7 linked regions of the Homo sapiens genome follow. The protein of the gene in region 4 purifies or fractionates together with the protein of the main gene of each other region. This does not show direct contact. Each region holds a gene or a part of one and is shown on either strand. Other genes may lie near its edges. The genes, in order: SEL1L3, ANKRD44, CACNA2D2, DIPK1A, SUSD1, TXNDC15 and LRP12.

The links.
Region 1: the proteins of DIPK1A (region 4) and SEL1L3 purify together in Homo sapiens (co-immunoprecipitation; 2 studies listed by BioGRID and IntAct, with this or other methods). This does not show direct contact.
Region 2: the proteins of DIPK1A (region 4) and ANKRD44 purify together in Homo sapiens (affinity purification with mass spectrometry; one large-scale study listed by BioGRID and IntAct). This does not show direct contact.
Region 3: the proteins of DIPK1A (region 4) and CACNA2D2 purify together in Homo sapiens (affinity purification with mass spectrometry; one large-scale study listed by BioGRID and IntAct). This does not show direct contact.
Region 5: the proteins of DIPK1A (region 4) and SUSD1 purify together in Homo sapiens (affinity purification with mass spectrometry; one large-scale study listed by BioGRID and IntAct). This does not show direct contact.
Region 6: the proteins of DIPK1A (region 4) and TXNDC15 purify together in Homo sapiens (affinity purification with mass spectrometry; one large-scale study listed by BioGRID and IntAct). This does not show direct contact.
Region 7: the proteins of DIPK1A (region 4) and LRP12 purify together in Homo sapiens (affinity purification with mass spectrometry; one large-scale study listed by BioGRID and IntAct). This does not show direct contact.

Annotation. Positions count from the first base shown.
Region 1 is NC_000004.12:25,747,989-25,751,488, forward strand, and holds part of SEL1L3 (protein sel-1 homolog 3), read right to left. Parts: intron 577-3,500; coding exon 437-576; 3' UTR 1-436.
Region 2 is NC_000002.12:196,986,162-196,989,471, reverse strand, and holds the end of ANKRD44 (serine/threonine-protein phosphatase 6 regulatory ankyrin repeat subunit B), read left to right. Parts: 3' UTR 1-2,810; downstream 2,811-3,310. UniProt on the Homo sapiens protein: Putative regulatory subunit of protein phosphatase 6 (PP6) that may be involved in the recognition of phosphoprotein substrates.
Region 3 is NC_000003.12:50,371,135-50,374,634, forward strand, and holds part of CACNA2D2 (voltage-dependent calcium channel subunit alpha-2/delta-2 isoform b precursor), read right to left. Parts: intron 1,952-3,500; coding exon of another isoform or gene 1,931-1,951; intron 1-1,930. UniProt on the Homo sapiens protein: The alpha-2/delta subunit of voltage-dependent calcium channels regulates calcium current density and activation/inactivation kinetics of the calcium channel.
Region 4 is NC_000001.11:92,874,463-92,877,962, reverse strand, and holds part of DIPK1A (divergent protein kinase domain 1A), read left to right. Parts: intron 1-812; exon of another isoform or gene 813-1,002; intron 1,003-1,532; coding exon 1,533-1,667; intron 1,668-3,500.
Region 5 is NC_000009.12:112,140,798-112,144,297, reverse strand, and holds part of SUSD1 (sushi domain-containing protein 1 isoform 2 precursor), read left to right. Parts: intron 1-674; coding exon 675-827; intron 828-1,798; coding exon 1,799-1,978; intron 1,979-3,500.
Region 6 is NC_000005.10:134,891,371-134,894,870, reverse strand, and holds part of TXNDC15 (thioredoxin domain-containing protein 15 isoform 1 precursor), read right to left. Parts: intron 1,380-3,500; coding exon 1,216-1,379; intron 1-1,215. UniProt on the Homo sapiens protein: Acts as a positive regulator of ciliary hedgehog signaling. Involved in ciliogenesis.
Region 7 is NC_000008.11:104,488,736-104,491,997, reverse strand, and holds the end of LRP12 (low-density lipoprotein receptor-related protein 12 isoform a precursor), read left to right. Parts: intron 1-458; coding exon 459-1,325; 3' UTR 1,326-2,762; downstream 2,763-3,262. UniProt on the Homo sapiens protein: Probable receptor, which may be involved in the internalization of lipophilic molecules and/or signal transduction. May act as a tumor suppressor.

The sequences.
Region 1 (3,500 bases), on a different chromosome or scaffold from region 4:
AAGCACAGGTACCAAAATATTATCCACCTTGTAGAGTAGTCATAATTTTCTGTTCTTCAATAAAGGGATGAAGCACGCACTGTGATTCTTAAGACACATCTTAGTGTATAAGAATCCAGATCTGCCGTAGGGCATGCTATGACTCCTAATACATACAATCACTAGAACAAAAGTCTGTGATGGCCCAGTAAACTTCCCCACATGCCCTATGATCAAGATGTTCCTTGTATGTGTTTGATGACCTTTGGTATTACCACTGCCTGATCTGGGTACTTCCTTGTAATTTGACTTTAAAAAAAATGACACCAATTGCAAAATTTGCATCCAGTTGACAAGACATTTAAGGTGTTTATCAGGATCATGCCCTGGCCCCAGCTTCCCAATACCAGCTGTTGAAAAGATTCTCTCTCATCTGGAGAGAACTGGAGTGCACAGTTCACCCACGTGGCTCCGGGTTATTAGTTACTGTGGGCTGGTCTTGGTCAGAGGCATCTGCAGCTGGAGTCACAGCTGGACTTGCAGTGGACGTGGCAGTGTCTGGGGAGGCCTGGGATGGTCTTGGAGGGGGATCGCTTGCTGCAGAGACACATGCACAACAGGTGCTGAATACTCAAAACAGTGCATTCAGAATGTACAACCACACCTAGAGACTCTGGCAAGCCAGGAGAGATGCATCTAGTCTAATGAACCTGACACTAACTAGCCAGGCAACTCTGGACCCGTTATCTAAGTTTAAGAAGATGCCACCACATGCTGACAATCTGATTTCTAAATAAAAACCCTTCAAGAGTTTCACCTCCAAGTGCCGATGCTCATTCCTAAGGGGACATTCTAGGAAGTTTAAGAATGGGTCCCCAAACTTCTGGCTTTTCTGGATATATGCGGGAATTCTTCGGGCCCCTTCCAGTACCTACAGAAGAGGTCGTGGATTCCAACACTCTTCTGAAAGAATAGGAGAGTGATGGGGAGGGGCAGGATGTTGTAGAATGATGTACCCTTTCTAAGGTCATTAAAGCCACTACTCTGGCAGGTGATCTAGTGATTAGAGCCCCAGTGATGAGGTACAAAGACCATTTTGCAGCAGTCAGGAGAACTGGGTTGGACAAGCCTCATTTATCTGCTGCTAACAAGGGACCTTGGGATAGGTACAGATGGCAGACATTTTGGTTGTAAAATGTTTGAGTCTCCCGGGCCTCGGTTTCATCACTTGTGAATTGAGAGTCTTGGATTAGATGATCTTGAAACCCACTTTGATCCTAAGATTTACCTTCCTGATGATCTCTGAGGAAGTTAATGAAGTACTAAGGCATGTATTTTCAAGCTCAGGGAAATGTTTAAATCACCATGGTAACAAGATAAATCAGCAATGAGTTTTCTGATTTAAAAAAAAAAAGTGCCAATGTGTAAATGTAGAAAGAATGCATAATTAGCATTGCCACCATTTAAATCTTTGGTAAGAGCATAGTAAAAATGTTTGATGTTTCTACAGGAAGTTAGTCATTATCTGTGTGAGGACTCCCCTTCTTCCACTGGGGGGTTTGCAATCACTGCACAAGCCCCCCACAGCCCGGCCTAATTTTAAAGTGGCCTCTTTGTCTCTGCTCATCTGGAATGTGTGCTAATTTTATTATTGGACTAGAATCAAGGTAACCAGGACAATAAGCATGTTGTTTAAAAAATTACAGAGTATATTCCAGAGCCAAATAGGAGTGATTTGTGAATTATTTGCTGCCTGGGGGACCATTTTCTGTACATTAGTGAGAAATATCACGAACTGGCCCAAACTGCAGCCCATGGGCCAAACGTAGTCATTGCTTGTTTTTGTACGGCTCGTGGTTTAAAAAACAGTTTTTACAATTTTACACAGTTGAACAGAAAAAGAGTAATATTTCGCGACATGTGAAAAATATATGAAATTCAAATTTTGCATCCATAGTAAAGATTTATTAGAAACCCAGCCACAGGCCGGGCGCCGTGGCTCACGCCTGTAATCCCAGCACTTCGGGAGGCCCGGACGGCCGGATAACCTGAGGTCAGGAGTTTGAGACCAGGCTGGCCAACATGGTGAAACCCTCTCTCTACTAAAAATACAAAAATTAGCCGGGCGTGGTGGCACGTGCCTGTAATCCCAGCTACTCGGAAGGCTAAAGCCGGAGAATTGCTTGAACCTGGGAGGCCGGAGGTTGTGGTGAGCTGAGATCTTGTCACTGCACACCAGCCTGGGCGACAGAGCGAGACTCCATCTCAAAAAAAAAAAAAAAAAAAAAGAAAGAAAAAAGAAACCCAGCCACAATGGCTGCTTTTCAGCTACCGGCTGAGTGGAGTAGTTGTGACCAAGACAGCCCCGAGGGCCCAAAATATTTATTATCTGGTCCTTTACAGAAAAAGTTTGCTGATCTCTGCTGTTAGGAAGAACATCTGCTTGCCGACTGACCAGATGGAAGCAAAAAAGAAAGAATACGTGGGACTATGTTGGATTCACATGTGAAATGAGAGAATGTTTGCACAAAGGAGGTATACAGGGGAAAACCCTAGAAATTGTATGCTATAAGTAAGATCATGCCTACTTCATCTGGGCCTCTGGATCTAGCAGGGACCAGATTTGTGTCACTGAAACACTCTTCAGGAGTGGAGATACTGGTAAGATGTCAAGCTAATGAGACAGGACAGAGTACAACCTCCTCATGAAATCTCTCTGACTATAAGGCTACTGCTTTCTTCATAAGCACTACTTTGTGACATTTTACTATAATTTTAGTAGAAACCTCATTAGCTGGAAATGTAGATGACAGGAAACAGCAGGAAAAGGTTTAATTAATCTTATACATATCACCATACTCTTTTTAAAAGAACATTAGGCTAACCACTTAGCTGGAAGGAATGAGTTGTCTTAAATTATAAATGTATTGAATAGGCTGACGTTGGTTTAAAACGTTACCTAGTTGTACCGAGGAGCTAGCAGTTCTGCAAATCTTGCTCTATATGGTGTATTCTATTGAGACATAAAGTTGACATGATACTAGTAAGACAGGGCTCTTTCTTTGAAATAGTGACTTCTATTTTCCACTTCTGTTCTTGCCTTTAGCTTCCTTCAGGCAGCTGACGGTCAGGCTCTGTGATTTTTTGGTCTCAGGGGAGGTTTGTGGCCAGGCAGAAGTGGAGATGGCTCCAGACATATACTTTGGGATTTTTTGTTTTTCAAAAGCCTGATCCATTAAGGCAATTATGCTTGGTGTACCCTCCCAAAGAGTGGACAAGGAGAGTGCTTTTGAGATGCAACAGGTGAGGAAAGGAGCTTTTTGGAGTCCTTGGGTTGTACCCACAGTACCCTTGGGTGCCCCATCAGCAATCAGAAATGAAGACTTGGGAGAAGAAGGGCTAATGACGCTTGGCTTTGGCAAAGATGACGGAGTTCCCAGGTGACCCAGAAGCTGCAAAGCCAATGGACCTAGGGGAACAGTGTAGGCCCAGGGTGATGTGTGTTCTGCTATCAGGCTGGT
Region 2 (3,310 bases), on a different chromosome or scaffold from region 4:
CAGTCTAAAATGGAAGATACACATTTTTTTCCTTCAAAATGCAAGTGAGAACTGAAGTAGCTTTTTTATGGAGTTAAATGTAATCTTTCTGTGTACCAGTCTTTGTTGTATTTTATATTTCTTAGGACACAGATTTCTAGTTGACCACTTAACATTTGTAACTGATGATGTGCTGACCTTTTTTTTTTTTTTTGCCAAACTAGAGAAAATGTCCATATACTTTTGCTGTAAATGTGTTTATATTTATTTGAAATGAAACAAATGGTGAGGAAACATCCATTATTTGTTCTCTATTTTAATTGCTATGTATCTTATTTAGAATAACAAAAAAAAAGTGAAAAAAAAAACACTTGACCCTGGGCTAGCCAAAAGCCCAAGGGCCAAACCTAGCATTTCCACTGCTAAGGTTTCCAGATGACCCTCAGGTTCTTCCGCGTTGGTTAGAGAGGGCTACGCATCTTCTACTGCTCAGCCACAGTCTGTAGCCAGCTTAGAGCTTAGAAGACATTGCAGTCTGGATGCCCTTCTGCGAGATGAAAACTCAGATGTGTAGTGGATCATATACACAAAGGCAGCACAAAGAAATATCTAGAAATTACCCTAAGTACACTGAAAAGCTCACATAGTCTCAGTAACCTGATGAGAAATGATGGCAGTGTGTGGGCACATGTGCCAAAAGGAGAAATAAAAATCACCAGCTCAAGTGCTATTTTCTACTTGAGGAAGAGACAGAAAAGAAATGTGTCGAATTAGAGCAGTACTCTCTGACGTTTTATAATGAGTTCCATTTCCACCCTGGAAATTGCTATTTTATAGTGTATGTGAGATATTTCAAAAATAATGTTCTATCATATCTGGATCAAAGACAGATAACTGTATTATATTTTTCATCTAGCTATAAAACTTTAATCTTACTCTTAATATCCTGGATTTAATTAAAACTCCTGTTGGGTTCTTCACAAATGAGAACTTGTTCAAAGGATTTATTGAACTGGTATTGATTTCACTGAAAATTTTCCACACCACCACCATTGTTTTTTTGAATTCTTGGTGTTGTGCTTCCCACCTTCTGTCCTTTTCGTTTGTTTAGAGAAGATGAATTTTTAAAAAGCAGATAAATTGCTAATGAGCAATAATGACCTTATCTTTACCAAAACACTGAAAATTAAGAGAGGTTCAGTGTTGAAGAAGCACAATATGCTGCGGTGTCTTTTTCTAGAAGTGAATGGAAATCTTGCTCAGTTGGCATTTCAAGCAGGAAATGAAATGCTTGCTTTAATGGCAAAGCAGCGTTAACATTTTTCCTGTCGTGTAGCAGAGAGTACAAGAATCATTTCAGCAAAGCAGTGACTCACCATGAGACGTTATCTCCATGGAGCTGCGTTTTGACTTTTCCCACTCTCTTACTCATAGAAGGAGGACAAAGGAACGAAATGAAATCATGCTCACAATGAACTGTTCATTACATCAACTGATCTCTCTCTCTCTCTCTTCCTCTCTTTCTCTTTCTCCCATACCCCAAGGCAAAATTTTTTTAAAGAAATGACTTTAAAAACTATCATTTCTGTATTTTAATTACATCTCTTAGAAATAAAATTATGTTTGCACCATAGCTTTCTAAGAAAAAAAAATGTGTTTTTAACTGAGTCTTAGTTGCTTAGTGCTTTTATTTGTGTTATTTTTAGACTGTATTTTAACCACAACTACAAGGATCATGTTTCATTGCACTTACTTATTTGCCAGTGTCTGCCTGTCTTTGCTAAATACATTACTATCTCCAAATTGCCTAAAATCTGCTATGATTCTACAGTAAATAGCTCAGGGTATTTCTATTTATCACTACTAAAAGGGCACCATAGTATGTTTTGGTACTTTAGGCAGTAAACACTGCTTGGTTTATCATTTTGTTATTAAATTAGAACAAGAACATCAAATGGATTTGCTGCACTAGTTATTCTTTGTACTGTTGAGCAACTTGGTGTGCTTATATGTTGTGTTGGTTGAAGAACTCATCCGTTTTATTGTCTTGTAATATGAAGTTAGAGTGCCTTTTTATATTTGTATATTCTGAAAATGTTCTGTGGAATGTTTTGTATTTTTTCATTTGAGTGTTATCAGAGCAATATGATACCAGTGAGTTTTCATTTCAACTTTTCTTTGAATGTATAAAGTGTCTTTTTTCCTATTTCCCCTTGTACTTGCATTGAAATGAATATGAAAATGCTTAAGTTTTCTATAGGAATTGTTTGATTTTGCAGTGCTAAAATGCTTTCGTCTTACGAAACTATAAACCATAGGTCAGTATTATAGGGGAAAAGCATTTTAAGATAGTGACAATCTGAGTGTTTGTATAAAATGTAATTCTATGCGTTTCTTATGTGATCTAAAAATTCAATGCAAATATCTTTTATTTGGTAGTTTTGTCTACATATTTTATGCTCTAGCATGTGCAATATATCTTTGTAAAGCACGATGATACAAATCTGGTGCCAGTGTTATATTTTGCATAACATATTTGTAACAGCATAAAATATTGTTTGATGATTTCAGTGGGATTTTGTCTATAATGTTTTCTTATGTAAATTGGAGTTGAATGACTCTGGTAAATGTCATGACTGTAAAAATGGGGAAAATGACTTTTAGTTCAGTGAATGACTTTGAAACAATCTGAATCTTCTCAAGCACAGTTTAATACTTTTGCAACTACTGAATGCTCTAATAACGTAATGAAGTACTTAACTGTAATATACTATGGAAATGCATTCAGATGGTTATTTTTACAAATAAAAACGGTACAAATATTGTTGGAATTTGTGTTTTAATTTTTCCAATTTATGCTTTTTCTAAATTATGCTAATTTAAATCTTTGCACCCCCTCAAGCCAAATTAACTTTAAATTTAGAAAATAATCAAGATAAAAGTGTATCTCCAGATTCACGATTTATGTTTGTGTTATCACAATTAGAGAAAAAATTCAAACATATATGCTTGTGTTTATTATATGTATTTATGCTTCCAACTTTTTTCCATAAAGGGTTTTGTTTTGTTTTGTTTTGTTTTGTTTTTTTCTGCTCTGTTGTCCAGGCTGATGGGCAGTTGTGAGATCTCGGCTCACTGCAGCCTCGACCTCCTGGGCTGAAGTAATCTTCCTACCTCAGCCTCCCGAGTAGCTGGGACTACAGATGTGCACCACTATGCCTAGCTAATTTTGTTTTTTTGTAGAGATGGGGTCTCACTATATTGCCCAGGCTGGCCCATAAAGGATTTGAGCTGGGTTATGACAAAAGACGTGATAAACTAGAAATAGAAA
Region 3 (3,500 bases), on a different chromosome or scaffold from region 4:
CAGGGGTGCTGCTGGAAACTGTACCTGCTTCCCTTGGCTAAGGGCGTGGAGACGGGCTGGGTCTCCACCCTTCCTAAAACCTGTCTGGGCTCCAGGCAGCCATGGGGGATGCTAGGGCTCCAGAGAGGGCATAGGGCTGCTGTTGAGGCATCCCCAGTTGGGCCTGTGCCCTGGGCTTATGAGCTGTGCATGTGTGGGTGAGTGAGCATGCATGTGTGTGTGTGTGTGTGTGTGTGCCTAAGTGTGAGTATCTCTGTATGGGTTTGAGAGTGAACCTGAGGATGTGGCCGCTGGGGCTCCTCTGTGGCCTCTCCCTGCCCAGCTGGACTGGCCACCTTGCTGGTCTGCACCTGGGAGGGGTCCCTCTGCTCTTGGCCTGTCTCACTGTGGGTGGTCCACCTTCTTAGCCTGTCTCCACTTCTGAGCTCTCTTTTGCTCCCAGGGCTTTAATTGTATAGAAGACAGATTGTCCCTGATACCAAATACTCCCACAATGCACTGCAAGATTCTGGGGAAGGGGGCACTTGGGGTGCTTGGAGGGGCTGGGCAGTCACTGGTTGGACTGTTCCTTTCTGATAGGACTGTGAGGCAGGGTTTGGACACAAGCCGATGGGGAAGGGGTTGGGGGGAAGAGGAGAAGGAGGAAAAAGAAAAAGGAGGGCGAAGGAGCAGGGAAGGAGACTATGCTATGTTGTCATTGTTACTAGGGCCCTGCATTTCTGGGGTCACTGGGTGGGATGTGCGGGGGTGGGGAGAAAAAGACAACTCAAGCCAGTGGGAGTAGGGCACATCCCCCACCCCCGCCCTGGCCACTGGAGGTGGCTCTGATCCCTTTATCCCCTTTGCTGGACTAGGCTGGACAGGGCCCCTAGGGCTTCTTGGGTGCCCCTGCTTCCAGGTCATGGGGACATCCTCTTGTGGCTCTCCATGCCCCATCTGCCCAGGGATTCCCTGGGAGAGGTGGCTCTCTGAGACCTTTGTAATGCTGTCCTCTCTCACTCCCCTTACTCTCTGCCAGGGTCTAGGGGTTCACTACCCACTCTTCCAGAAGTCTCCTTGGCTTAGGCACCCCAGTGTGCCAGAACCCTTCCTTTCATACCCAGCCTGATTTCCTCCAAACACCTTTGCTGGCTCTTGGGGTCTAAACAGATCCCATTCCATCCCTGTCCAGGCCCCTGGTCCCCAAATCTGGTTTTATTTCCCCAGGGAAACACCTTTTCCATACTGCCAAGCCACCCCGGGGCTCAGCAAAGCCTCTGGAAGCAGCGGGCCGGCAGGACACGGGGACATCAGCACCTGTGTCAGTGCCCAGGAGGCGCGGGTCAGCCCTGCTCTTCAATGGCTGGGGCCTGCCCTATGCTGCCCTTTGGCCCCAGCATCAGGGCGTGAGGCTTCTGAGCCTTCTGCCTCCCTTCTTGGAGGGCTGCCAGCTTCTGAAGCTACTGCCAGAGATCAGAGGAGGGAGAGCTACCTCAGAGTAGGCCTTGTGGGCTGGCCCCTTCCCACAGCTTCACATGAGCCCCACTAGGGGCTGATCTACCCCCTGCATCTCAGGCCTCCAGCCCTGCTGAGTGGGAGGTGGTGGAGAAGCGTCCAGACTGTCCCTACTGTTGAGTTGTCTTAGAGGGACAGAGAAGGTGGGGGAGGCAGGGGCCTCCCCAGAGAGAGTGAGGGGTCCAAGGAAAGGGTTGTGGGCCCTGAGAACACGCCGGAGAACACCCTGCAGGCAGGGCCAGGGGCACAGGCCACTGGCTCTCATAGGGGCTTAGGAATCAGAGGAAAGGCAAGAACTAGAGGAGCCAAGGGGAAGCTGGGAGGGGGCCCTGGAGAGCAGGGGTTTGGCTGGTCCTGGGCAGGGAGGGGGGCAAGCAGGGGCGTGAGGATGGGAGGGGTGGGAAGAGGAGGGTGCACTGGTTCTGAATATACTTGCCCTTCAGTTTGCTGATTGGCACTGGGACAGTCCACCAAGAGAGAAAGCGAGGAAAACAAAAACAACACAAACACAAAAACAAACGAAAAGGGGGAGGGAAAGGGGAGGGGCACAAACAATATTTTATTCAATGGCTGTTTGAATGAAAATATTGTGTCTCATCATCATACCGAAAGGAAACTTCTTGCAAAAAACGACATGAGAGAGAAAGAGAGAGCAAGAAAACTCAAAGGAGATGAGCCCCCAGTCGGCCAGGCAGGTGGGGGGCGCCCGGTGGGGCCGGAGCCCCAGCCTCCCTCCCAGTGACCTCGGGCGTGGTGGGCAGGCAGGGCCACAGGCTCTAGAGACTCTCTCAGGAGAGGCCCAGGATGAGCAGGGCATGCAGGGGTGAGCCACAGGCAGAGGAGTGGGAGAGGCAGGGGAGGAAGGAGGGGGGCCAGGGAGAAAGCAGGGAGGGGGAGGGAGGAGGGGGATGGGGAATGAAGGAGGGAAGAAAGAAGGTGAGGAGGGAGCCAGGGGGCAGAGCGGAGGGAGTGTGGGGAGTGGGACTGAAGGGGGGGGGGTGCTGGGGTGGGGAGAGCGGGAGGGAGGGAGAGTGAGAGAGAGAGATGGAGGAGGTGAGCAGGAGAAAGAGGGAGATAGAGGAGATGCAGGGAGAAGAGGAGGGAGAGAGGGAAGAAGAGAGGACAGTGCGTAAGGGAGGGAGGTTGGATGCAGAGGGGAGAGAGGTAGGAAGTGAGAGGAGAAGGATGAGAGGGTAAGTGGGAACTGAGTGAGGATGGATGAGGAAAGAATGGAGAGGAGGGGGCAGAGAGAGAGAGAGGCACCATGGGAAGGGGGCACCACAGGGGTAGAGAGCTGAACAGGAAGAGAGAGGAAAGAGGGGAGGGGAGGGAGAAAGAGGGGAGGGGAAGGGAAAAGGGGGGAGGGGAGGGGGGAGGAGGGGAGGGGAAGGACTGGAGGGAGAGGAGGGGAGGGGAAAGAGGGGGAGGAGAAGGGGAGGAAGGGAGAGGGAGGAGGGGAGGGGGAGGAGGAGAGGGGAGGTGGGATTGGGGAGGAGGTAAGGGGAAGGAGGAAGGAATTGAAGGGAGGGGGAATAGGTGAAGGGAAGGGAGAGGAGGTGGAGGGAGGAAAGGGGAGGGGGGAAGGTGAGGGGAGGGGGGATGGTGAGGGTGGGGGGAAGGGGAGGGGGAAGGAAAAGGGGAAAGGGAAGGGGAGGGGAAAGGGGAGAGGAGAGGGACAGGAGGAGGGGGAGGAGAAAGGGGAGGGTAGGGGGAGGAGGAGGGGGAAGGGGAGGGGAGGGGAAGGGGAGTGGAGGTGGGTGGGGAGGGGAGGGGGAAGGTAAGGGGAGGGGGTGTCTTCCAAGAATGCAGCCCCCAGGAGTGTGTGGGGCAGGCAGGCTAAGGAGGGAAGACACGGAGTAGGAGAAACCAAAAACAGCAACCTCAACAGAAACCATGAAAGAATGGTCTGGAACCGAATCTGAGAAAAGGCAAGCATGCAGATTTCCACAGACTTTCGAGGTGCCCCAGCCTGCGGGCACCTGAGGGTGGGCAGACTGGGCAGGAGG
Region 4 (3,500 bases):
AATTGATTTAGCTAACATTTGCTGAATACTTACTACGTGCCCAGCAATATGCTTATGTTTTATAGGCATTATGTCATTTAATCTTATTTAGGTTCACAATATTAGTACATGTCGATTTCTGTCTGATGACCAAACCTCTTATTAGAGACGAGTCATCTTAAATATCTTTCAAACAAACCCCATGGTATATACCCCATTGTCTTTTATGTGATTTAATTTGGAGTTTAATCTGAACTTTCTTTTTACTTAGAGCAATACAAAAGTATCTTGCATTAAGGCACTTTTTCATTTTAATAATAAAGCTCAGAGACCTACAATTTTACTGAGAACTCATTGTACTCAAGCCTTTTGGTACAGGGATTCACCATCTGTTAACCTCACAAAGATATCTAAACCACAAATAGGGCCAATAGAATTCAGTATTTCCTGAGTCTCTTTTTCCTTTGCACTCATTGTCTTCTGCAGGTGTGCTTATGTCTCTCTCATCTCTTTCTGCTTCTTTGCATGCTCACAATGCTCACAATATCCTACTGTTCCCAGTGTGAGAAACTGGCTCGTGATTGTAAAAGCAAAACTAGCTTTTCATTGTTTGTTTACATATCTTTAATTTATTCTGCCGAATTCTCTTCGTAGTCCTCAGTTCTGCTGTTTATAAAACCAGACCATGGGTGCTACAGACTCAAAAAATAAATGTCAAATAGTCTTGATCAAGTGTCACTTTTGAAGATGAAACTGTTTGATATGTAATTGATGGAAAAAAGGCATCAACCAGCCCGAGTTGCAATTAGATACAAGAGCACTGGAAACAAAACAATGCAAAGAGGATCCTATTGTGCAGCTTTACACTTTGCAAGTTGATATGCAAAGAGTAACTTATTTTTAATATATCTTAACCCTTCTCCAGTCATTTCTCCTTTAACAATTGTTAGCGTCTCCTCAGTTTCCAGAATATCTATTCGGTGAAACATTTGGTTCGCTGAACAAGAGGAACATAAAGCCCTGGTGAATACAATAGGGAAATAGAAATGACTGTAGAGCTTAATTTCTTGTTCTGGTTGTCAGTATGAGACATTAGACAAATAGCCAGATTTTCTGTTCTTATTTCTTTAAAACAAAATTATTTTTATCATGATTTTCCTAAAGACCTTTAAGATTCTTATGTGAAAGAGTCTTTTGTAAGCTTCTAGTAAATAGGAATTGTACCTCTCTTTACCTGATCTCACAAGGTGCCCAGGGTAGCATGGTACATGTGCTTGTGCCTAAAAAGTAGCTTTGGATGATGGTGGTATTTGAAAGGTTATACATCTTAAAGGATATTTTGTTCCCTTTTTCCTTGGCAGGACCAAGGAGCTTCCTTTTCTAAGACCAGTGCTGTTTGGACTCAGTGAAAGTGCACTTTGTTCTAGAATTGCCATATAAAAGCCTGGAATATATATTGAGTTGTTCCAAGAAGGGTGAGAAGTCGTGTTCTAGGACATTGAATGCTGATTTGGTGCTGAATGAATGATCGTTATGTTCTTTTTTACTCACAGGCTCGCTTCTCATATGTGCGGATGAAATATCTTTTCTTTTCCTGGTTAGTGGTTTTTGTTGGAAGCTGGATTATATATGTGCAGTATTCTACCTATACAGAATTATGCAGAGGAAAGGACTGTAAGAAAATAATAGTAAGTATTTTAAATTTCCTGTTTACTAAAAAGCCTCTTCATAACACTATATTTACTGCTTACATACTTACTAATGATGTTTTTAAAAATAAAAGTTAATTTGACATTAGAATTGTGCTAATCTTCTTAGCTTTTTGACATGACCCATTAGTAAAGTTTTCCCCACTTTGAAAATTCCAGTGTTCAGAAATTTAAATATATAACACATAAATAAGTTAGTGTGGGGGCATCCTCAATACAAAGAAGGATTTTTATTATATATATATATATTTTTAATATATTTAAGTTTTAGTTTATTTCAATCAGATGAGTTTTTTAATGTTTAGACTATAAAAGCGTATTTACAGGCAGACTTTCTAGAACACATCTTTTACTCTTGAATACCAAAATTTATCTAAAAGGATTATTATTCTGTTTCTATCCTAGTGATTGGATGTATCTCAGAAAAATGACTGTATCAGTCTAAGATTTCTAGTAGTGATCATTAATTCTATAGACTTATATTTTAAAAATTTGAGAATTTCAAGTAAATTTAACTCCTTTTTTTCCACCAGTACTTTCTCTCTTTTTTTTTTTTTTTTTGAGACGAAGTCTTGCTTTATTGCCCAGGCTGGAGTGCAGTGGTACAATCTCAGCCTACTGCAACTGCCTCCCAGGTTCAAGCAATTCTCCTGCCTCAACCTCCCAAGTAGCTGGAATCACAGGCTCGCACTACCACGCCTGGCTAATTTTTGTATTTTCAGTAAAGACGGGGTTTCACCATGTTGCCCAGGCTGGTCTTGAACTCCTAGCCTCAAGTGATCCGCCCTCCTTGACTTCCCAAAGAGCTGGGATTACAGGCATGAGCCACCGCACCTGGCCTCTACCAGTACTTTCTAATATAAAGAATATTAAAACACTCCATCTCAGAATTATATTTGAATAGTAATGATTTGGAGGGTTCCAATTATTATAACTTGTTAAAGATTCTATAGTTGTTGAGTAGCTACTCTTTACCCAGGCCAGTGGTGTATGCATATAACAGGGAGCAAAATATCTTTGACCTTATAAAACTTACAGTGGATCAGGAAAGAAAATGAGTAATTACAGTAAGGTAAGATAAATAAGATAGCAACTGTTATGGGAACATAAGACGGAAACCTGGAGCTTCCCCAAGTTCTAAGAAAATAAAAACCAGTTTAACACAAGGTGCTTCATCAGTTAGGATACAAAAACACGTTATTCCACAGGAGTGTTACAGTCTTTTAACTAGGCAAGAGAGGGGAATGAGTTAGTAAAGAAGAGTCCTAAGTCAAGGTTCAAAGATAGCAATCCTGTGTTCATTCCAACTGGCCATTCTAGATCCTTAAGGAATTTTAAGATAGGAGGTATCTCTGGGGCCAATGTACTGGGTACTTTACATGTTCATTAATCCTTAGCATAATAGTGTACAGATAAAGAACTATGACCCAGAGAGACAGGAGAATTTGCCCAAGATGATGGAACCAGAATTTGATCCTAATTCTGTCTCTCTATGAAGCTCATACTCCTTCTGCTACCCTACATCAGAAAAGACTGACAGAAGAAGTTACAGTCTAATAAAGCTAATAAAACCCCACAAAACTCAGTTTCTAACCTTCAGTGAAGAAGGAGGAAACAGGAGGTAGATAATCAAGTTCAAAAACATACAAATAACCGAAACTATTTGAAATGTTTATTTCTCTTTCTCTAGGCCACCTTTCTCAAACTAGGTACCTTGGAGCACATTAATAGATATTCCATGGATAAAATATGTCCCTGGTCAGATGTATTTGGAAACAGAGGGTTAAATAAAGATAACAACTGACTTTACTA
Region 5 (3,500 bases), on a different chromosome or scaffold from region 4:
TGGATATATTTATAGTGATTGGATTTTTTAGTGATTGGATTTTCTTTTTTTTTTTCTTTGAGACGGGGTCTTGCTCTGTCACCCAGGCTGAGTGCAGTGGCGTGATCTCGGCTCACTGCAAGCTCCGCCTCCTAGGTTCAAGTGATTCTCCTGCCTCAGCCTCCTGAATAGCTGGGACTACAGGCATGTACCACCATGGCTGGCTAATTTTTGTATTTTTACTAGAGATGAGGTTTCACTATGTTGGCCAGGCTGGTCTCGAACTCCTGACCTCAAGTGATCCACATGCTTCGGCTTCCCAAAGTGCTGGGATTACAGGTGTGAGCCACCATGCCCGGTCAGGATATTTTTTAGTGATTGGATATATTTATGTTTTTGGTTCATTTTGTTGGGTGTCAGGGAGCCGGTGATGGTTATCAGCTTTTGTAAAATCCCAGAACACACTGACAAACATTTATTGAGCACTTGCTATGTTTTCAGTGCCTATGATATGAACGATATATGAGAAGAACCCATAAGGCATAAAATAAAATGTATGATACAATTGCAAACAAATGCATCTTTTTACAAGAGTAGCTTGAAAATGTGAAAAAATGGCTGTCACAATATCCTCTCCTTTTTTTTTTCTTTTTTCTGTTTTTATCTCCTTTTCTCTATTTGGATTGGGTCCCAAGACATAGATGAGTGTGAAGTTTCTGGCCTGTGCAGGCATGGAGGGCGATGCGTGAACACTCATGGGAGCTTTGAATGCTACTGTATGGATGGATACTTGCCAAGGAATGGACCTGAACCTTTCCACCCGACCACCGATGCCACATCATGCACAGGTGGGTTTCTGCCAAAAATTGCGGCATCTCAACGTGAAATTCTGTTGATGGTGACTTTCTTCTGCTCCAAGCCTGTGTTGGGGAGGCAGGTGGAGGTGATCTGATCCTTTGCACATTTTGTACAACCTATGACATAAAGCAAATAACAACAATCAAGTTACAGGGGGCCATGTTAAAAAAGCTAAAATTAGGCCAGGAGCAGTAGCTCTGTAATCTCAGCACTTTGGGAGGCCGAGGCTGGTGGATCACTTGAGGTCAGGAGTTCGAGACCAGCCTGGCCAACACGGTGAAACCCTATCTCTACTAAAAATAAAAAAAAATAGCCAGGTGTGGTGGTGGGCACCTGTAATCCCAGCTACTCAGGAGGCTGAGGCATGAGAATTTCTTGAACCCAGGAGACAGAGGTTGCAATGAGCCGAGATCATGCCATTGCACTCCAGCCTGGACAACAGAGTGAGATCTCTGTCTTAAAAAAAAAAAAAAAAAAAAAAAAAAAAAAAAAAAAAAAAGCTAAAATTCATAAACTTAAAGGATTTTTATTAGCAGTTAATAGATATTCCGATATTAACTACTATGTTAGATAGTAAATGCCAATGATTTGGTAAGGTCCCTGCATCTCAAAAGTGACCCTGAAAATAATCAAGGTACATATATCTTAAGGTATTTTGCAATTCAGATTTTTTATTTCACTGGACAAGGCTTCTCTTTAGTTAGTGTAAATTAGTGAGGGTTGATTGCTAAGTTATTTCAGCTTTGTGCATGTATAGATGCTTTACCTATGGAAGGCCAAAAGATTGAATAAAGACAATTGTTGGAAATGTTCCCAGAAGTCATGTGGGAATGAACCAGTGTACTTAAAATATGGCTCGGGGGTGTGTGTGTGTGAGGAATAGGGTAGAGGTGGAGAGAGATTGTGAATTTTGAAGATTTACATTCACGAGGTAATGAATTTGACATTAATTTATTTTCAGAAATAGACTGTGGTACCCCTCCTGAGGTTCCAGATGGCTATATCATAGGAAATTATACGTCTAGTCTGGGCAGCCAGGTTCGTTATGCTTGCAGAGAAGGATTCTTCAGTGTTCCAGAAGATACAGTTTCAAGCTGCACAGGCCTGGGCACATGGGAGTCCCCAAAATTACATTGCCAAGGTGAGTTTTCAAAAAATACAGGTTCCCAATTCATACCACCTTGAAACTGTTTTCATATTTTTCTCTAAATTTCAGTTTCAGGGAATAAATGAGTTAAGTAAACCTTTAAAATTCCTATTTGTTTCTCATAGATTTTCAGGTGATTTTCTTGATTTTTCAGGAATAGTATCATATCATCTGCAAATCATAATTCCATTCATAAATTTTTCTTTCTTTATAATAGTTATGTTTTTCTCTTGATTGATCACTTTGTATTTTTAGAACAAAGACTTAAATGGTAGTGTTGCCTTTGAATATTATTTTTTTATTCCTGACTATTAGGGAAATGGTTTGGGTGTTTCTTCATTCCTGATGTTAGTTTTTTGATGTTAGGTGTATATATATATATATATTCCCAGAAGTCATGTGGGAATGAACATATATATATACATATATATACACACACATATATGTATATATATACATATATATATAAAAACGTCATGTGGGAATAACATATATTATATATAATATACAATATATACAATATATGTAATATATTACATGTAATGTATTATATATTATATATTACATGTAATATATATTATATATAATACATTACATGTAATATATTATATATTTTTTATATATATATATAGTTTTTGAGACAGAATCTCGCTTTGTCACCCAGTCTGCAGTGTAGTGGCACAACCTTGGCTCACTGCAACCTCTGCCTCCTGGGTTCAAGCGATTCTCATGACTCATCCACTCGAGTAGCTGGGATTACAGGCACCCACCACTACACCCGGCTAATTTTTGTGTTTTTAGTAAAGATGGGGTTTCACCGTGTTGGCCAGGCTAGTCTTGAACTCCTGACCTTAAGTTATCTGCCCGTGTTGGCCTCCCACAGTGCTGGGATTACAGGTGTGAGCCACTGCGCCTGGCTGATATTTGGCATATCTAATCATGTCTACTCATATGGCACTGTGTGCCAAGTATTATTTTAAGCACTTTATATATGATGATGGACCACATTGTAGTGGTCCCATAAGATCATAATGAGACTGAAAAATTCCTATTGCCTAGTGACATCGTAGCCATCATAATGTTGTAGTGCATCACACTCACGTGTTTGTGGCATTGCTGGTGTAAACAAACTTACTGCTCTGCCAGCAAGTACATTACTGTATGTATATTACTGTATGTACATTACTATACATAAAAGTGTACAGTAATGTCCTAGGCCTTCACATTCACTCACTATTCACTCACTGACTCACCCAGACCAACTTCCAGTCCTGCAAGCTCCATTCATGGTAAGTGCCCTATTACAGGTGTATCATTTTTTTATCTTTTATTCTGTATTTTTACTGTATCATTTCTATATTTAGATATATAAGTACTTCTTATTGTGTTATAGTTGCCTACAGTAATCAGTATAGTAACATGCTGTGTGAATTTGTAGCCTAGGAGCAATAGGTATACCATACAGCCTAAGTGAGTAGCAGGCTCTACTATCTAGGTTTGTGTAAGTACACTCTGT
Region 6 (3,500 bases), on a different chromosome or scaffold from region 4:
TTTACTCAACTTCATTTTACCACCAATTGACCATTTTTCAGATGTTCTAGATTTATTTACACACAACCTCCTTGTTGAGGCTGACCTACTAAGGAGCATCTGATTTGGAAGAGAAGAACAGTTTATAACTCAGGCACAATCGCAGCACTTAGGAGAAACATATACCATCTCAACAAAGTTCTCTGTAACTTACTTTACTAAACATTTAAAAAAGACAAAAAGTGGCTCACACCTGTAATCCCAGCACTTTGGGAGGCCGAGGCTGGTAGATCACAAGGTCAGGAGTTCGAGACCAGCCTGGCCAACAAACGGTGAAACCCCGTTTAAAAATACAAAATTAGCCGGCATGGTGGCAGGTGCTTGTAATCCCAGCTACTCAGGAGGCTGAGGCAGGAGAATCACTTGAACCTGGGAGGCAGAGGTTGCAGTGAGCCTAGATCACACCATTGCACTCCAGCCTGGGTGACAGAGCAAGATTCCACCTCAAAAAAAAAAAAAAAAGAAAAAAAAAATGACCAGCCTGGCATGGTGGCGCATGCCTGTAGTCCTGCTACTCAGGAGGTTAAGTCAGGACGATCGCTTGAGCCCAGGAGTTCAAGGCCAGCCTGGACAAAAACCCAGTGAATGATACACGAGAAATATAAAACAAAGATAAATGTCATGTTAAAGAGCTAAATTAATTCATGACTTGATCGAGTGCCTACTACAGAACATGACTGCAAGAATAAGTACGCAGGAAAGAAAGAAGGAAAGAGGGAAAGGGAAAAGAAGGAAAGAAAAAGAAAAGGAAGGGAAGAAATCCTGAGTAGACACAAAACAGGGGTGCTGGGAATTGGGCTGCCTGGGATGGGGATTTAACCTGCGCCTTAAAGTCACAAAGGAATATCCTACTGTGATACCAATTGTGCTGATTCAGTCTGGCTATGGCCCTCAAAAGTCTTCTGGCCCCTCCCCTGCCATCAGGTGCTACCACCTGCCACCTTTAAATCCACCACACAGAGAACAGCCCACTTTCTTTAAGGGGCCTCCATAAAGTGACACCACCAGCTCCCTCAGGAGTATGATAATCCTCACTATTCACTCTTGCCTTGCCTTCCATCCCAGGACACAGTTCATGCCCCCCCTCTTCTGCTTCTAACTTAACTAATTAGGACCTCCAAATAACTGCAACCATCAGCCAGGAGGATGGACGTAAACCCCACCAATGGAAGATACCTGCTGTGCTGAGATGCATCCAGTGCCAAAAAGTGAAGAGCTGGAAATGCCCGGGGCAGAGAGTTAAAGTGAGGGGCCAAACTGGCAGAAAAGCGGCACCACGGGGTGTAAAACAGGACTAGAGTACAGTCACTACCGTTTGGGTTCAGAAAATCCATAAGGTCCTGTGGTAAAAGAAACAAGCATTAAAGTTAGCAGTAAAAGTACATTTTTCTGAAAGGATACCCAAGAAACAGGACACACTGCTGCTCCAGGGAGAGGAACGGGTGGGTAGGAGCAGCGAGAGAAGGAACCCTCGGAACCTTTTGGATTTTGAACCATATGAATCCAGGAACCAGCAAAAAAGTATGATCAAATGACAAGTTATAAACTTTCACTTTTTTTAAGTCTTGCTGAATTAAGCAGAAAGTTTTAAACTTTCCTCTGCGCTTTCCTAATATTACAAGTTATTTTAATATTTTTCATAATTCATCATTTCAAATACAGGCATACCTCATTTTACTGCATTTCACTCCATTGCACTTTGCTGACATTGCATTTTTTGCAGATTGAAAGTTTGTGGCAACTCGGCATCCAGCAAGTTTTTCAGCACCATTTTTCCAACAGCATGTGCTCAATTTGTGTCTGTGTCACATTTTGGTAATTCTTGCAATATTTCAAACTCTTCCATTATTATTATATCTGTTATGGTGATCTATGATAAGTATCTTTGATGTTACTATTGTAATTGTTTTGGGGCGCCACCAACTGTACCCATAGAAGACAGTGAACTTTATCAGTAAATGTCTATGTTCTGACTGTTCCACCGACCAGCTATTCCCCATCTCTCTCCCTCTCCTCAGGCCTCTCCCTGAGACACAACAATATTGAAATTAGGTGAATTAATAACCCTACAGTGGCCTCTGTTTAAGTGAAAGGAAGAGTTGTACATCTCTCGTGAAAGGAAGAGTTGTACATCTCTCATTTTAAATCAAAGCCAAAAATGATTGATTAAACTTAGTGAGGAAGCCATGCCGAATGCCAACATAGGAGACAGGCTGAAAGCTAGGCCTCTTACACCAAACAGCCACATTATAAATGCAAAGGAAAAGTTTTTAAAGGAAGTTAATGTGCTACTCCATCCAGTGTGGTGACCTCTGATGCTTAAAAATAAAAATAAGTGCTACTCAATGAATATGCAAATGATAAGAAAGCAAAACAGCATTATTGCTCATATGGAGAAAATCTTAATGCTATAGATAGACGATCAAACCAGTCACAACATTTAAGCCAAAGCCTAAATCCAGAGCAAGGCCCTAACTCTCTTCAATTCTACGAAGGCTGAGAGAGGTGAGGAAACTGCAGAGGAAAAGTCTGAAATTAGCTGGGGTTGGCTCATGAGGTTTAAGAAAGAAGCTGTCTCCAGAACATAAAAGTGCAAGGTGAGGCAGCAAGTGCTGATAGAGAAGCTACAACATAGTAACATCAAAGATCAATGGGGAAAAAAAAAAAGAAGCTGCAACAACTTACCCAGAACATCTAGCTAAGAGAATTGATGAAGGTGGCTATACTCAAAAATCAATTTTCATGTAGATAAGACAGCCTTCTATTGGAATAAGGTGGCTTCTAGGACTTTCATAGCTAGACAAGAGATGTCAATGCCTGGCTTCAAAGGACAGGCGGACTCTTTTTAGAGGCCAGTGTAGCTGCGGTCTTATTTATTTATTTAACAATAAATCTTATTATTTATTTATTTATTTATTTGACAAGGTCTTGCTCTGTCACCCAGGCTGGAGTACAGTGGCGCAATCATGGCTCATGGCAGCCTCAGCCTCTGGGCTCAAGCAATCCTCCTGCCTCAGCCTCCCAAGTAGCTGGTGCCCACCACCATGCCTGGCAAGTTTTTGTATTTTTTGTAGAGATAAGGTTTCACCATGTTCCCCAGGCTGGTCTGGAACTCCTAGGTTTAAGCAATCCACCCACCTTGGCCTCTGAAAGTACTGGGATTACAGGTATGAGCAACCACAGGGCCAATGCTCATTGCTCATTGCCCATTCTGAAGATCCTGGGGCCTTTAAAAATTATGCTAAATTTATTTTGCCTGTGCTCTAGAAAAGGAACAACAAAGCCTGGATGACAGTACATCTGTTTACAGCATGGTTTCCTGAGTATTTTAGGCCCACTGTTGAGACCTACTGCTCAGAAAAAAAGATTCCTTTCAAAATATTATACTCGTTGACAATGCACCTGGTCAACCAAGAGTTCTGGTGGAGATGCACAAGGAGATGAATGTTGTTTTCAGGCCT
Region 7 (3,262 bases), on a different chromosome or scaffold from region 4:
ATTTGTTCTTTAAAAAAAAAAAAGATAAAAGTCCTCGTTTTCACAAACTCATTTTGGTCACTTCGTCAATTATGTAGAGATTCTCCTATGTTCCTAGTTACAGAAGTATCAATTTTATTTTCTAGCTTTGGTACACTTTTCATGTTGGATTACGATGTGAGATTTTGAAACAACTGTTATAATTTACATTAAATATCATTTTTAAGTTGCATATATAAAATGGAATATCAAGAAAAGTTTAAACAAACAATGATTCAAGTTAGATTAGTAGATTAGATTCTGTAGTAGGATGAACCCACATAGGTAAGAGAATTTAATTTTTCCTTCTTAGACCCAAAAGCAACAATGAGTAACAGAATTTTTAACCACAACACATTCTTAATAGAAGGGTGTTTTTTTTTTTTTTTATCTTAGTACCTTGTTGTTAACTATCTTAAGATCTTTTCTTATTTTTGTAGGCTTCTGTTTTGGAAAATCTGAGGCTAGCGGTACGATCTCAGCTTGGATTTACTTCAGTCAGGCTTCCTATGGCAGGCAGATCAAGCAACATTTGGAACCGTATTTTTAATTTTGCAAGATCACGTCATTCTGGGTCATTGGCTTTGGTCTCAGCAGATGGAGATGAGGTTGTCCCTAGTCAGAGTACCAGTAGAGAACCTGAGAGAAATCATACTCACAGAAGTTTGTTTTCCGTGGAGTCTGATGATACAGACACAGAAAATGAGAGAAGAGATATGGCAGGAGCATCTGGTGGGGTTGCAGCTCCTTTGCCTCAAAAAGTCCCTCCCACAACGGCAGTAGAAGCGACAGTAGGAGCATGTGCAAGTTCCTCAACTCAGAGTACCCGAGGTGGTCATGCAGATAATGGAAGGGATGTGACAAGTGTGGAACCCCCAAGTGTGAGTCCAGCACGTCACCAGCTTACAAGTGCACTCAGTCGTATGACTCAGGGGCTACGCTGGGTACGTTTTACATTAGGACGATCAAGTTCCCTAAGTCAGAACCAGAGTCCTTTGAGACAACTTGATAATGGGGTAAGTGGAAGAGAAGATGATGATGATGTTGAAATGCTAATTCCAATTTCTGATGGATCTTCAGACTTTGATGTGAATGACTGCTCCAGACCTCTTCTTGATCTTGCCTCAGATCAAGGACAAGGGCTTAGACAACCATATAATGCAACAAATCCTGGAGTAAGGCCAAGTAATCGAGATGGCCCCTGTGAGCGCTGTGGTATTGTCCACACTGCCCAGATACCAGACACTTGCTTAGAAGTAACACTGAAAAACGAAACGAGTGATGATGAGGCTTTGTTACTTTGTTAGGTACGAATCACATAAGGGAGATTGTATACAAGTTGGAGCAATATCCATTTATTATTTTGTAACTTTACAGTTAAACTAGTTTTAGTTTAAAAAGAAAAAATGCAGGGTGATTTCTTATTATTATATGTTAGCCTGCATGGTTAAATTCGACAACTTGTAACTCTATGAACTTAGAGTTTACTATTTTAGCAGCTAAAAATGCATCACATATTCATATTGTTCAATAATGTCCTTTCATTTGTTTCTGATTGTTTTCATCCTGATACTGTAGTTCACTGTAGAAATGTGGCTGCTGAAACTCATTTGATTGTCATTTTTATCTATCCTATGTTAAATGGTTTGTTTTTACAAAATAATACCTTATTTTAATTGAAACGTTTATGCTTTTGCCAACACATCTTGTAACTTAATATACTAGATGTTAAGGTTGTTAATGTACAAAAAAAAAACCCTTATACTCACCTGCGTTTTCATTTGTTTGACATTTGTCTATTATTGGATTTCATTATCATATGAACTTGTCAGTGGGAAACAAACTGTCTAAAAATTTTTCTCTTACGTTTAACATACAATCATGTGAAATTTAGGCAGAGTTCGATAAATTACTGGCAAAAACAAAACTCTTTTATAAAGATTTTCTAATGTTGACTTTAATACTCTAACATGGTACAAACCAAATGGTAAAATCCCAAGTCATTTCTTTTTTCATCTCTATTTAGCAACAGAATTAAGTGGATGAAGATATTCTACTATGCATTAAATCTTGAACTTTATAAAACATGTACAAAAATTGTACAAGATAAGTTCCACCTGGTAATGTCTTTCCCTAATACAGGGTTGCGCTTGCATTGGACCCTAGGGATTTGCACTAAAATTATATCAAGGTCTCAGATGAGCTTAGTGCACAAGCACTATCACTTTAAATACTATTATTTGCTACCACAGCAACTATATATTTCCATAGCTTTTGGCTGGGGGCGGGGGACATTTTTATTACAACTTGAAATTGCTTTGCTGGTTTCATATTTATTTGTTGTATTTAAAAAATACATTGTTGTAAGAGTGATTTTTTCAATATATTTTATTCCTGGGGGGGATCATGCTACACTCTCAAAAGAAAATTAAGAAATCATTCAGATCATCCCCCCTTTTTAAGTAGTGTGAATTGCAAAACCCAACATATTTTTTTTACTGTCAGTTGCGGTTTATTTATTCTTTAACTGTCTGTTTTAGTAGTTTAATGATTATGAAAAATGTATCTGTGTGTGATTTGCTATTTATTAAATTTTAAGTACTTTGCTGAATGTCATTTTAAAGCATGTTTGAAGTCTTGTGTATTTGTCTGTGTTAATGCTGTCAGGAGGAACTGACTAAGATGTTTTAATATGTATCAAAAATTAAAATGATTTTTTTTATTGCCTTGAGGTACTTTTTAAATCAAAGCTGTTCTTTATTTGTTGAATTTTGGTGCATATACAAATTCAGGCCATAAAATATGCAATATATCTAGAATAAAAATGATTAGAAGGAGATCATTCCTTAACTACTTTATAGTAAAGTAGTAGCTTTTACCAGTACTCGAGGGTAAAATTTTCTAAGGACTTGAATATTATTTTGCTTGAGATTGCCCTTCAATTGATGTATCTCACAAGATGAGAGAGTTTAATTGATTAAACTGCCTTTTAATTGACGTATCTCACAAGATGCAGTAACACAATCAGTTCTCTTTTTAAATTGTTTTCACATACATTTTAGACCCCTATAATATATTCTACTGGCAGAATTTGGGTTACCAAATAATCTTTTATGCCCTAGTACTAATATATTATCAAGTACAAGGGTTTTGGTTTTCTAGCATATGTTTTAATTTATTATTTTAATTAACTAATACATCATCCTGGTTCAAACAGTAAAATGTAAATTCCTCTTCTATCCCA